Regions from separate parts of the Homo sapiens genome. Here all the other regions are linked to region 1. The links come from fine-mapping of genetic effects on gene expression. A gene starts in region 1. Each other region holds a variant in brackets. All regions are shown on one strand. Distances are from middle to middle. Region 1 holds the start of METAP1D (methionyl aminopeptidase type 1D, mitochondrial). Region 2 overlaps METAP1D (methionyl aminopeptidase type 1D, mitochondrial). Region 3 overlaps METAP1D (methionyl aminopeptidase type 1D, mitochondrial).

Evidence for each region. PIP is the estimated chance that this variant, and not a neighbour inherited with it, causes the effect.
Region 2: its variant is the best candidate, but not a certain one, in a credible set for the expression of METAP1D in thyroid (GTEx, PIP 0.83).
Region 3: its variant is the best candidate, but not a certain one, in a credible set for the expression of METAP1D in whole blood (TOPMed, PIP 0.65).

Annotation. Positions count from the first base shown.
Region 1 is chr2:171,998,066-172,002,308 of GRCh38, forward strand. It overlaps METAP1D (methionyl aminopeptidase type 1D, mitochondrial), which reads left to right and starts at 1,888. Exons shown (of 10, transcript NM_199227.3): 1 at 1,888-1,944. The coding sequence starts at 1,905. It overlaps LOC124905590 (a long non-coding RNA gene), which reads right to left and starts at 1,844. Exons shown (of 3, transcript XR_007087296.1): 1 at 1,614-1,844. RefSeq lists a silencer at 1,583-1,882.
Region 2 is chr2:172,063,073-172,067,315 of GRCh38, forward strand. It overlaps METAP1D (methionyl aminopeptidase type 1D, mitochondrial), which reads left to right. Exons shown (of 10, transcript NM_199227.3): 3 at 639-788; 4 at 2,532-2,680; 5 at 3,192-3,234. Among named protein-coding and RNA genes, the nearest start is that of DLX1, 20 kb to the right of the region's middle. The variant G/A (reference allele first, on the strand shown) is at 1,737.
Region 3 is chr2:172,030,551-172,034,793 of GRCh38, forward strand. All of the region lies in intron 1 of METAP1D (methionyl aminopeptidase type 1D, mitochondrial), which reads left to right. Among named protein-coding and RNA genes, the nearest start is that of METAP1D, 33 kb to the left of the region's middle. The variant G/C (reference allele first, on the strand shown) is at 2,309.

The DNA of each region.
Region 1 (4,243 bases):
GGGTCAGTGGATGAGCTATCACCTGTGCAAGTTCATATTTGCTTCATTTCTAGCTCATCCCAGATATCTACATTCCATGCCGAACTTATTGAGGATTTCCTCACTGGATTCCACTACTGCTGGTGCCACCTGGGTCCTCATAGTGTTTCCTTTTCCTTTTAGTTGTAGGGGAATAAAGCATTCATTTATTTTCCAAGGGTTGGCTGAGTTAAGTCACATGAACATGTGTTCTATTTCAGATGGGTTTGAAACTAGGCTTGATGCCTTAAGGAATAGGGATGTCTAGATTTCTTTTTTCTGTACACTGCTTAAGACTCTGTGGCCAGCTAACTCTCAGGCTCCTTTGCTGCACTCAGATTGCTGGCCTCAGTTACACAGAGGACAGATTTGCCACATTCAAAAATGCTCTCCCTGGAATTGAAATGAGTTTGCAAAAGGTAGGAGTACATTTTATTCTCATTCTTGTGCATCTTATTTACCCTGATGGAAAGCATTACTTCTCTTTATCTTTCAAGGTGACCCAAAAGCATCCAAAACCAGGTTTTCCAGAATTATAGCATGTGTCCTCTAATGAAATGCCAACATTCACTCTCTTTAAAAGTAAAAATATCAAGATTATATAGTCATTAAAAAGAATAAGTCTGAACTAAGTGTTCTAAGATTTGATGCCTATGATGACTGGAATGGAAAAAGCAAGTCATATGATTCTATTTAAAATACTTACATTTGCCTGTGTGTAAAAGGCAAAGATCTCAATTGAGCACACGGTGGTTAACTGGGGAGTGGGACTATGGTATGTACAGAGGGCGAGGAAGGGGCTTGCACTTGTTCCTTATTTCTGAATTGTTCTGAATTGTCTAGATTATTCACTGAGTGTGTAGTGCTTAAAAATTAATTAGAAGACATCACACACATTCACTGAGAATCCTAATCAATCTTCACTGCATTTAAAGTCTGGAAACGGTTACATTCTCAGTTTGACTGGTTTCATGCAGTGTTCAATTGCTTCACCTGACATTCCTCGGGTATCGGGTTCTGTGCCGGGCACGGAGGCTACTAAGATGAATAACACCTGGTCCATGACAGGATGGCATCTACCCCAGAACACAGGTAAGAGAGACAGTGAATTTGGTAAAAATGGGCACCGTCATCAGTAGGCATACATCAGCTCCCTCATCTGATTCACAATTGGCCTTCTGTAGGCTTCTTCTCTTGGCAATGCAATTGGCAGGCGTCATCCTTTTATACTTAAACTCCAAATTTAGGATTAAGACTCCAGTTAATACTGCCAAGCAGAAGGCGTCCTTGGAGAAAGAGAAGTCTCCTGAACATACCCACTGGGGTACCTAGAATAGATTTTGCAGCGACACACAGATCCTGTGTTGTCTGGAGTCTCTGCTGAGTAATGTAGATTCTGGGACAGCAAAAGGGGAGCTGGTGACTTTGAACCAAATTTTACCTTTCAACTGAATCCAGGGGAATAATTTGCAACAGAGTGGCAGACGATACAAAGTGCTATGTTGAACACTAGATTGTGCTTTATTTTTTCCGCCCAACTTCACGTTTCCATGCACCAAAATGTTGATGCTATAAATATTGGATGCCACGCTTACCTGACAGGCTTCTTCCATCCCACCTGGGCGCGGGGGCTCAGAGCGAGCGCGCGAGCCGCGGCTGGAGCCCGCCTCTCGCGGCTGGAGAGGACTCAGCCGGCCGCGGGTTCTGCTGCTTGCCCGGGTGCCCTAGCCGCTTCCCAGCCAGGGCTCCCGCAGTCAGCCCCGCGCGCGCACGCGCGCTCCCCTCGGGCGGCCTCGACGCCTCAGGGCTTCGGCAGGGCTGCGACTGGCCGGCTCCAGCGGGCGGGGCGGCGAGCGAGTGCTCGCGGCCACGTGACCGACGCCAACATGGCGGCGCCCAGTGGCGTCCACCTGCTCGTCCGCAGAGGTAAGCGCGTGGAGGAGAGCCCCGTGAGGGTTCGCACGGTTGCTCACTAGGTACGCACCCGGGTCCAAAGGGATGCGCACCCGCGCTCAGACTTCTCGGCGCACACGACTGTACTTTCAGTGTTTACGAACACACGCAGGCACACACGATGACACATTCACACACCACAGGATCACACATACAAATTTGTTCACTGATCACCCGCCTAGAACACGTCACCACGTGGCATCTTTTCGCAATTACTCCTTGAGATTTGCGGGCCATTGTCTGAAGTTTTTTTCCCCAACTTCGGTTGTATCATTAGTGTAACCAACATTTATTCTGTATGCCGAGCAAGGAAACCTATGGTAATTCTGAAATGCATCTGGACACCCGGTTCCCTTCCCTAGAGCTTTTATGCAGGCATGCTTTTTGGGGACTTGCAAAATGTGATGGTTTTCTTCCAGTGACTTAAAGTTAAGAAGATAAGAAAGGATGTCTGGGTAGTTCTAAGTAGGTTTTATCCTGCGTGAGTGTTGAGATTTTAGTAAATATACAAATGCCTTTGCAGCAGAATTGGGGAAATCTTTGTTGGATTTGAACTAGGTGCTGAATCTTTGTTGGAAAGAACTAGAAAGTTTTTCCAAGGACGGGGGAAGAGGAAAACTATCATATTTTGAGGAGCTACTTAAGCGTCAGGCATGTAGGAACAGTTTTGTGAGGTAAATATTATTTTCATAGTAACAGCTACTGTTTATTAAGTGCCTTTTAAGTACACGATACTGTGTTAAGCGCCTTACATATGCTTGCTTCCTTTTAAAACTCAATGAATGAGACCCCGTCTCTACAAAAAATTTTAAAAATTAGTCGGGCGTGGTGACACATGCCTGTAGTCTCAGCTATTCTGGGGGTTGAGGTGGTAGGATCGCTTGAGCCTGGGAGGTCAAGAGGCTGCAGTGAGCCGTGATCGTACCACTGAACTCCAGACTTGGCAATAGAGCCAGACCCTGTCTCAAAAACAAAAACAAAAACCCAGTGAGTTAGGAATTATTTTCTCTTTGCAGAAGGGAAAAGTAAGGCTAGAGAGGTTAAGTAACATTACTAAGGTCGCATAAATGGTAAGAGGCAGATTGCTCATTTGAACATGACTCTAATTTTTTTTTTTAAGACTCATTTCTCGGTACTGCATGACGTGGTCACTCCATAGAAGTCAGTGTGTAAAGTTCAGCAGAGACAGTGCAGGATGAGTGTGTACAAAAAGTGAAGAGAGCCTGGGCACGGTGGCTCACACCTGTAAACCCAGCACTTTGGGAGGCCGAGGCAGGTGGCTCACTTGAGGTCAGAAGTTCAAGACCAGCCTGGCCAACATGGTGAAACCCCGTCTCTACTAATATACACAATTAGCTGGGCGTGGTGGCGCATGCCTGTAATCCCAGCTACTCGGGAGACTGAGGTAGGAAAATTGCTTTAACCCAGGAGGTGGAGGTTGCAGTGAGCTGAGATCATACCACTACACTCTAGCCTGGGCGACAGAGCGAGACTCCGTCTCAGAAAAAAAAAATAAATAAAAATAATAAAAAATAAGAAGTGAAGAGGAAGATATTTTTAGAGAGGAAGAAGGTTGGTAATCGAATAGACTTCAGTATTTCAGTGTTAGTGGAGATGAGAAAGGGGCCACAGGAAGATTTGAGGGGAGAGATGTGTATGGGGAAGGTGATGTAGCGAGCATTTTGGACTGGTTGCATGAAGGAATGGACATCAGCATGAGAGTGTAGCCTTGTGAAAAGACAGCCAATTTACATCTCTCAAGATCTGGGTGCCAGGCCTGGCAAGGTGGCTAATGCCTGTAATATTACCCAGCACTTTGGGAGGCCAAGGCGGGCAGATCACTTGAGGCCAGGAGTTCAAGACCAGCCTGGCCAACATGGTGAAACCTGTCTCTACTAAAAATACAAAAATTAGCCAGGTGTGGTGGCACATGCTGGTAATCCCAGCTACTTGGGAGGTGGAGGTGGGAGGGATCGCCTGAACCCAGGAGGCGGAGGTTGTAGTGAGCTGAAAAAAAAAAAAAAAAGATCTGGGTTCCAGTCCAAACTTTCTTTACTAATTACTTTTCTGTTTCCTCTTTTCACAAGAAATCATGGCTTTTAGACTTCATTTTTGTATGCTTCAGGTAATGGTGAGAAGGATCTGAGGAGATAGTCAATGTAGAGGAGGAGCCAAAAAAAAAACAACCTGAAAACATACATAGGTGTATGTATGTATATATATATACACCTATGCATGTATAAACGTATTTTTATATGTGTGTATATATGTA
Region 2 (4,243 bases), 65 kb after region 1:
TGAGTTTTGGGGTGGCTTTTTGTTTACTCTTGACAAATAATGGAAATGTTCTAGGTAATTTTTATGTATTTGAAGAATAAAACTTGTTTCATTTTATTCTAGTGTCTCAGTGTAAGTACGGTTGCAAAATGTAAGAAAAGTGTATATGTAATAGGCTTTAGGGAACTTGATAGTCAGCCTTTTTACATATGTTCATTTTGAGAGGGTGTTGGGAGCTATCTTTTGCATAAATTATATTTTTGTGTTAAGAAGATGAAAGTGCTCTTAATTAACCATTTGGTGAATTGGAAGCTTGGTGCTATTTTTCATCAATGGTGAATATGCTTCTAACTGGGTTGGGAGGAGGAAAAAGAGAAAACTACTGTTTGTTTTGACCAGAAGTCTACTTCAGTCCAGTTTGACTCAAAGCATGGTAAGGTTAACAGACCATCCAGAGGCAGCACTAACAGGCAATGTTAAGTTCAAAAGGGCAGGGGAAGGAACTGGGGGCAGCCTGGAGGGTCTGTTGTGCTGGCTTCGGAGGTCGGTGCTCCGGCAGGAAGGGCAGAGCTCCATGAAGCAGGAGGCTGTGTCTGAAAAAATGATCCCATTGTCGTGCGCTGGGTTCTGATCTTCGTTTTCAATCCTTTTTCCTCAAGCACATAAAGAAGCCAGACTATGTGACGACAGGCATTGTACCAGACTGGGGAGACAGCATAGAAGTTAAGAATGAAGATCAGATTCAAGGGCTTCATCAGGCTTGTCAGCTGGCCCGCCACGTCCTCCTCTTGGCTGGGAAGAGTTTAAAGGTGGCGTCTCACCAAGCCTCAGAACGACTTACATAAGGGGCAACAAACACTCCTCTTTTTTTCCTTCTCCTTAACTCTTCTTTTAGGTTGACATCTAATTTGTTTTAAAAATTTATTTGTTTTAAATTAATTTGTTTTTAAAAATTAAGTAAAGCCTTGGGATGGGGAAAAGGAATTTTATTATTTTATGTGTTTATTCAAGAAGTAATTTAAAATCCAAATTCAATTTTAACTAGCAGAATTCTAGAGATACTTTGGTCTCAGTCAACCTATCCAAGTTGATCAATGGCAGACAGCTTTGATTTTTGCCCCCCTACTCCTGCCTGTAGTTTCAGCTTTTACTCCCCACATTATTTCTGTGTGCTTGAAGATTTGCTCTACCTTGTCCTTTGTCTCCTATTTTCTTGCATTTGCCCTGCAAAGAAAGATCAGATCACATACACAAAGCTGTAGGTAATATAGCAGTGTAATTACATACAACTTCCTACTACAAGATTTAGTTCTTTTAGGCCAGGCGCAGTGACTCATGGCTGTGGATCATTTGAGGTCAGGAGTTCGAGACCAGCCTGGCCAACATGGTGAAACCCCACCTCTACTAAAAATATAAAAATTAGCCAGGCATGGTGGCGGGCACCTGTAGTCCCAGCTACTTGGGAGGCTGAGGCAGGAGAATCACTTGAACCCAGGAGGTGGAGGTTGCAGTGAGCCAAGATCATGCTACTGTACTCCAGTCTGGGCAACAGAGTGAGACTCCATCTCAAAAAAAAAAAAAAAAAGATTTAGTTCTTTCATTTAGTTCTTTCATAATAATCTGAAGCACCCTTCTGTATAAGGATTATAAAAGAAAAATATGAGCCTATTTTCTGCCAAAAGGTGGGCAGAATTTAGGAAGTGAGACTCAAAGATAAAATCACTCACAGTATCTTCTGTGTAATAAACTTACAACAC[G/A]GCTAAACATAATGTATATATACAAAATGAAGAAAATTATTGAAGAAATGGTTAATTTTTAATAAAAGATTTTATTTTTGTTTTAGAATTTTATTTATGTTTATGGAGTTTATGGAAATAGTCTTCATATACTTATAAAACTCAATTTCAGTTTTCTTTTAGTTTGGGAGCAATTTAGTTTGGAATACCTTTAGTAAGGAAAAAATATTTTAAAAATTACATTTATTTAGACATGAAAGAAATGAAGATTACTTAAAATCAAATCTCTACAAACTATATTAGACTCACTCTTTTAAATATCAACCATAATCTCTGTGCCATTGCTGCAAAACCCCTGTAATGTTTTACTGAGATAAAAAGATGCGAGTTGACCTACTTTTCAAGCTTTTCAAGGTTCAACTGATGAACCTTTTGAGCATTTATTCACATGCGCTGGGTAGCCCAGGGCACCAATCATTGAGAAAGAGTAAGGAATTGCCGAAGAACATAATTTTGAAATCCTCAGGCCAAAAGGGAGTTATGTCATTTAATGACTCACAAATGATTTAGAGGATCGTAGGGTTTAACATTTCTATTTCCTAATGGTCCATAACACCATCATATGCCCAAATGATTGTCCACAAGGCACAGTTGAGGATTCTAACACTAATCATAATTAATTCAAATGTTGTACCATAACTTTATCATAGTAAATTTATACAGTCTCACATGGAAGTACTGTTGCTATAGCATAGTTGATAAATACAAGAAATGTCTTCAATTGTTGCTGCACAATTTCTTTATTTAACATTTTAGGTTGACATGACAACTGAAGAGATAGATGCTCTTGTTCATCGGGAAATCATCAGTCATAATGCCTATCCCTCACCTCTAGGCTATGGAGGTTTTCCAAAATCTGTTTGTACCTCTGTAAACAACGTGCTCTGTCATGGTATTCCTGACAGGTATTCAGTTCTTAATAACATATTGTTCCTTTGGAAACTAAAACATGAAGCTAAGATCTGTAACATATGTTGAAAGACACTATCATTCAATTGAAACCCACCGGTAAACTTCTGAAATTGATTATGATAAAACAGAAATTTTGAAGTATTTTACTTCTAAATGGATACACCACCACCATTTAATGTTTGTTAAAGCAGTGCATAATCTAAATGGGGGTTGTGCATTACGTATGTCTTTTACTTCTTAGATTTTAATCATATAAGTGGTAAAATTCAAATGTGGCAAATTTTTCTTATCAACTCTTGTTTTGGTTCTTGGCAAAATTAAGGTAATAAATTAAGTGCATCTTTTGAAATAAAGATTAGATTTAGTTATCCTGTGTAGTCCTCCTTCACTCCAAATTATCACTGCATCCCATTGGGTTTGTGACAGTAGTCATTAAGTATTTATTTTTATTTTCCTTTTATTGAGATCTGTCTATCACCATTTTTTTTTCTGTTTACGTTTTAGTCGACCTCTTCAGGATGGAGATATTATCAACATTGATGTCACAGTGAGTAAATCATATAAAAAATTGTCTTTGATCAACTTCAGAATTGCTGGTAGCAACAGGAAGAGTGGATTGAAAATGTGAACTGCACCAGTGGAAGTGCTGTTTACTTCTAGACCCAGACGCAAGCAGCTGGTTTCCTTTTTTGTCTTTAACTCTGTGTTTATTCCAAGTAAACCCAGGCCTGACTTGAATTTAGGGCTGCAATCAGATGCACTGAGATCAATGTTGGCCTAAGTGAAATGTCAACCCAATCCTGCTATGTGTCATGTTTTTGAGAAGGTGTAATTGTTATTGATCCACTGTGTAGTTAACGCAGAGCACCACAGCACTGGGCAGCTGCTGAAGCTAGATATGTATGAGATGAGCTAACACGAAGAAAGCCAGCATTTTTCCTTCACTCTGCCAAGATTGATCTTCCTCTTCCTGCTGATTTTGAGTGGGGCCTGTCATTATCTTACTCTGTCATTAGGGGCTACATTGGCCTGTGTATGTCAGTCTATTTGGACAGCAACTCTTTTGCTAGCAGTGTTCCCTAGATTTATTAAAATCCCTGAAGGTAACGTTGAGTTCCATTTCTGGTATAGAGAGCCTTGTGCTCAAAGTAAGCAGAGTGGTTTTTTTGTCTGAACTTAAGTTTTCACCAAATGGTTAATAGCCTTTCTTTTAAGTAACAAGCCTAAGTAATTTATCATAGGGACTTCAAATTGTACAAGATGTAGCTTTTTCTCATTTTCTTAGCCTTTTACCATTCTCAGACTTGGATTATATGTGCTTTTACATTTCTGTTTATTAAAGAATTTTGTAATGATACCTTTGGATTACCTAGATTATAAATAAATTCTGTACATCTAATGATTAACAAATACATTTTAAATAAATAAACAAAATTTAAACATCTTAGGAGAACTAGTTGAAATGACAATATTCAGGGAATACAATTTCTATTAATAAGGAAGTGTTTTTAAGAATAGTATCTAGACCATGAAACTGAAGTAGGAGTGGGAATGAG
Region 3 (4,243 bases), 32 kb after region 1:
ATCTTCAGCCTTTACCACTGGAAAGCATCTTTCTAAATTCAAATCCTTGATTTGCTTCTGGTTTTGTAATAAAGTCATGAGCAATAGGAATGCAGCCAGCAATTACGTTTCTGCTTTTGTCTTAAATTGGAGACCATGGAGCGACATCAATTCGCAGGAAATATACTGTTTCTTAAGAAAGTCTTTCATTTAACTTTCTTCTGTACTTAAAATTGGAAATATATTTAGCTTCTCTAAATATTTAGTTGTATGTGAACCAGTTGTTAAAGAATGTCTTAATTCTACAGTTAAGCTCACTCACATGTATGTATGTCTCATACATTAAAAATGTCATCCTGCTGTGTAGTTTTAAGAAATTACTTTTCAGAAGTAAAGACTTTAGGTATGATAATGATAATTTAGGAAATGATAATTTAGGAAAATTTTCTCAAGTACTCATCATTTTTAAAAATTCATAATTCAGAAATATTTTATTGGGAGACTAAAGACATTTATAGTATTTTCCCCCAGAGTGTCATATTTTTATAAAACAGGTTATTATTAACAAATGATATAATTTGAAATAATTGGAAAGGTCCACTGGCCCTAAAATATGTCCCCTACAGCCTTCTTGGAACATAAAATGTCCAACTACGTATTAGAATTTTCTTTGGGTTAATGGAGTATCCTCATAAAGGCTTAGTTTAATAGGAGTTATCACTCTGGGTTTTGCCAAGATTGCTTTAGAAGGAATGAGTTGGGTATGTTTTCAGTAGTCTTGGTGAAGACCCCAGAGGAAGAGCAGAGGGTAGGGATCTTGGTGGGAGAGAAGGGAGACACTCCCCTACCAGGGGCTCCAAAAGAGGGCTTTAGGTTGTAGGAAAGGTGGGCAAAGCCTGTCCTTTATAATAATAAAATGTTTAGTTAGAGGGGAGCCATATTTAAAACTATAGCACTAGACTTATCTCAGTTGTAAAATGGATATTATATAATAAGATGGAGGAAGTCATTCACATATGCTTTCTCTCTCTTTTTGAGCACAATACCAAAGTGTTTCCAGAATAATTTGGCACCTTCACTTCCTGCACAGACTTGGAGTAGAGTCCAGAAAACAGTCTAGTTGAATTCTCAGATGGGTTTTTGGCAAGAATACAAAGTAGCTTTATACAGCTCATCTCTGATGCTTTTCACTGAGTGTCTGAAAGAAAAGGGAGGATTTGAGGACCTGATTTAAACAAGGAAGTAACCCAGTGACTTAAAGAGGAGTGTTGTGGAATTCGAATCCCAAAATAAAGCCCTACGTCGTTGACTTTTCAGCCATGGGAATAACCAGTTGCTTCATTGTGTGTTTTGTCAAAGTGCCTCAGCCATTTGGTCGGCCTGATGGTTACCTGCTGCCTCTATTCATAGTTTCTGCGTCCTTTCTTGTTGCCCGGCTGGTCAAACATGTGTAACGGTGCCCTGGGGCACCAAGCATGCCCTCGGGGAGCTAAATGCTGCCAGATGTAGGGAGCAAGGGTTGATTCACATAGCCATAATTTCAATAGCTAATTTTACCTGTTTTCTTTTGGTTTTGGGTTTCCTTCTTAAAGAAAAACCCATTTGGAGTTGAGTTTTTCCCCCTTTAAATTGCAGTCTTATCTTGTTACCTCTAATCTCCCAGCCTCATCCCACTCCCGAAATAAAAGTGTGAGAAGAAAAGAATAGAAAAGATACGTGATTTATTAAGTCTGAGAGATTAATAGTTTTACTTTATGATAAAATCAGTAAAATGTTTCTGTTTTACTGGATTCTGATTAGTATTCTTATTTCAAAGTGAAATTATGTTTCACTTGACTCAACCTTCCCTGTAGAAATCATTTAGATAGAAATAGATCATCTTCTAGATAGATACTTTATGTAATCTCTGATTAGGAACACTGAATTTGTTGTTGAAAGCCCTATATTTTTTAACTCACTCTTGAAAACTGGTTAAGTAGAAGGAAAGAATCAAGCCCTTAACTTGATATATCCTGTATGGAACTGAACCTCAGGATGACCAAATATTTGATGAAAGAAAGTTTCTCTTTTTAGAAGTATTTCTGCCAACAAATTAAGAAGGTCTGAGAGAATATCACCATTTGGCAAACCCCTCGTGAAATAATGAATCTATCTACTGGTCATCAATGGTTGCTAACATCACAAAAAGAGCCACAGCTATCAGAGCACACCACTGTCCATTAAATATTCTTGCCAAAAAAATTGAACTTGAGGCCGGGCGTGGTGGCTCACGCCTGTAATCCCAACACGTTGGGAGGCCGAGGCAGGTGGATCACGAGGTCAGGCGATG[G/C]AGACCATCCTGGATAACACGGTGAAACCCCATCTCTACTAAAAATAAAAATTAGCTGAGCCTGGTGGCGGGCGTCTGTAGTCCCAGCTACTCGGGAGGCTGAGGCAGGAGAATGGCGTGAACCCGGGAGGTGGAGCTTGCAGCGAGCTGAGATCACACCACTGCACTCCAGCCTGGGCGACAGAGCAAGACTCCATCTCTAAATAAATAAATAAATAAATAAATAAAAATAAAAAAATCAAACTTGAATCAGAACAAATCCCTAGATTTAATATGTCTACAGGAAATACAAAGGACAGAGAAACATATTAATTGACACCACCAAGATACAACTGGTAAGTTACAGAATGTGAGAAGTGCTAGGGACAAATTCATTTTCTTAACAAATAATTTACGAGAAAGAAAAAAGGGAGGAATTCATTAAAACTGGCATAAGAGACATAGCAATCAAGTACAATAGACCTTATTTGGCTCCTATTTTAATAATACATTTGTTTAATTTTTTTTTTTTTTGAGACGGAATCTCACTCTGTCACCCAGGCCAGAGTGCAGTGGTGCGATCTTGGCTCACTGCAACCTCCGCCTCCCGAGTTCAAGCAATTCTCCTGCCTCAGCTTCCCAAGTAACTGGGATTACAGGTGCCTGCCACCATGCCCGGGCTAATTTTTTTGTATTTTTAGAGAGGCAAGGTTTCACTACGTTGGCCAGGCTGGTTTCGAATTCCTGACCTCAAGTGATGTGCCTGTCTCGGCCTCCCAAAGTGCAGGGATTACAGGTGTGAGCCACCGGGCCCAGCCCATTTGTTTAATTTAAAAAAGAATATATGACAAAAGGAGAATATCTAAAGGCTGATAAAATATTTGATGGTACTAAGGAACTATTGTTAATTTCTAAAGGTATAATATTATATTATTAAACCATTAAAAAGAGTTCTCATCACAGGCCGGGTATGGTGGCTCACGGCCTCCAGCACTTTGGGAGGCCGAGGCGGGGGGGATCACGAGGTCAGGGATTTGGGACCAGCCTGGCCAACATGGTGAAACCCTGTCTCAACTAAAAATACAAAACATTAGCTGGCAGTGGTGGTGCGTGCCTGTAATCCCGGCTACTCGGGAGGCTGAGGTAGGAAAATCACTTGAACCCAGGAGGCGGAGGTTGCGGCGAGTGGAGATCATGCCATTGTACTCCAGTCTGGGCAACAGAGCAAGACTTCATCTCAAAAAAAAAAAAAAAAACAAAAGTCCTCATCTTTTGGATGTACACATGGAAATATTTACAGTTGAAATTATATGATATCTGAATAGGCTTCAAAATTATCCAGTGGGAAGGGATGATGGTTATGGATGAAACAAGATTGGCCATCTATTGGCCATTGTTGAAGCTGAATGATAGATACATGGGGATTTGTTACACTAATCTACTTTTGTGTGTTTTTGAAATTTTCTATAATAAAAAGTTTTTAAAATAGGCTTAGGTAAATCCCAGATTTGCCACTTGTAAATTTGTGATCGTGGACAAATTCATTAGCCTCCATAAGTCTCAGTTTTTGTGTGTGTGTGTGTGTGTGTGTGTGTTATTTCTGGTTAGGGCGTTGCCTATAAAATAGGTACAAGGTTATTTTCCCAGTTTACCACCTGGTCCGGGTTGTTGTGCCAAACTTAATAATATGTATGATGTTACTTTGTAAATTGCCACAAATATATCAACTGTTTTATTATTATGAAGTTCCTGAAAGGATCCAGGTTTTCTGCTTAGAAAATTTAGTAGCTTTTTCTGCTTCAACAAGCAGTATGGCTGTCTACATAGATTATATCAACTAAAAAGCTCTGGAATAAGAATATAATTATGTATCCAACAAGGGTTTTATCAATTAGTTTGTAGTAATAGAGTAATTATAAGACTTCATTTTAAAAAATTTGCAAATATAAATTTCTC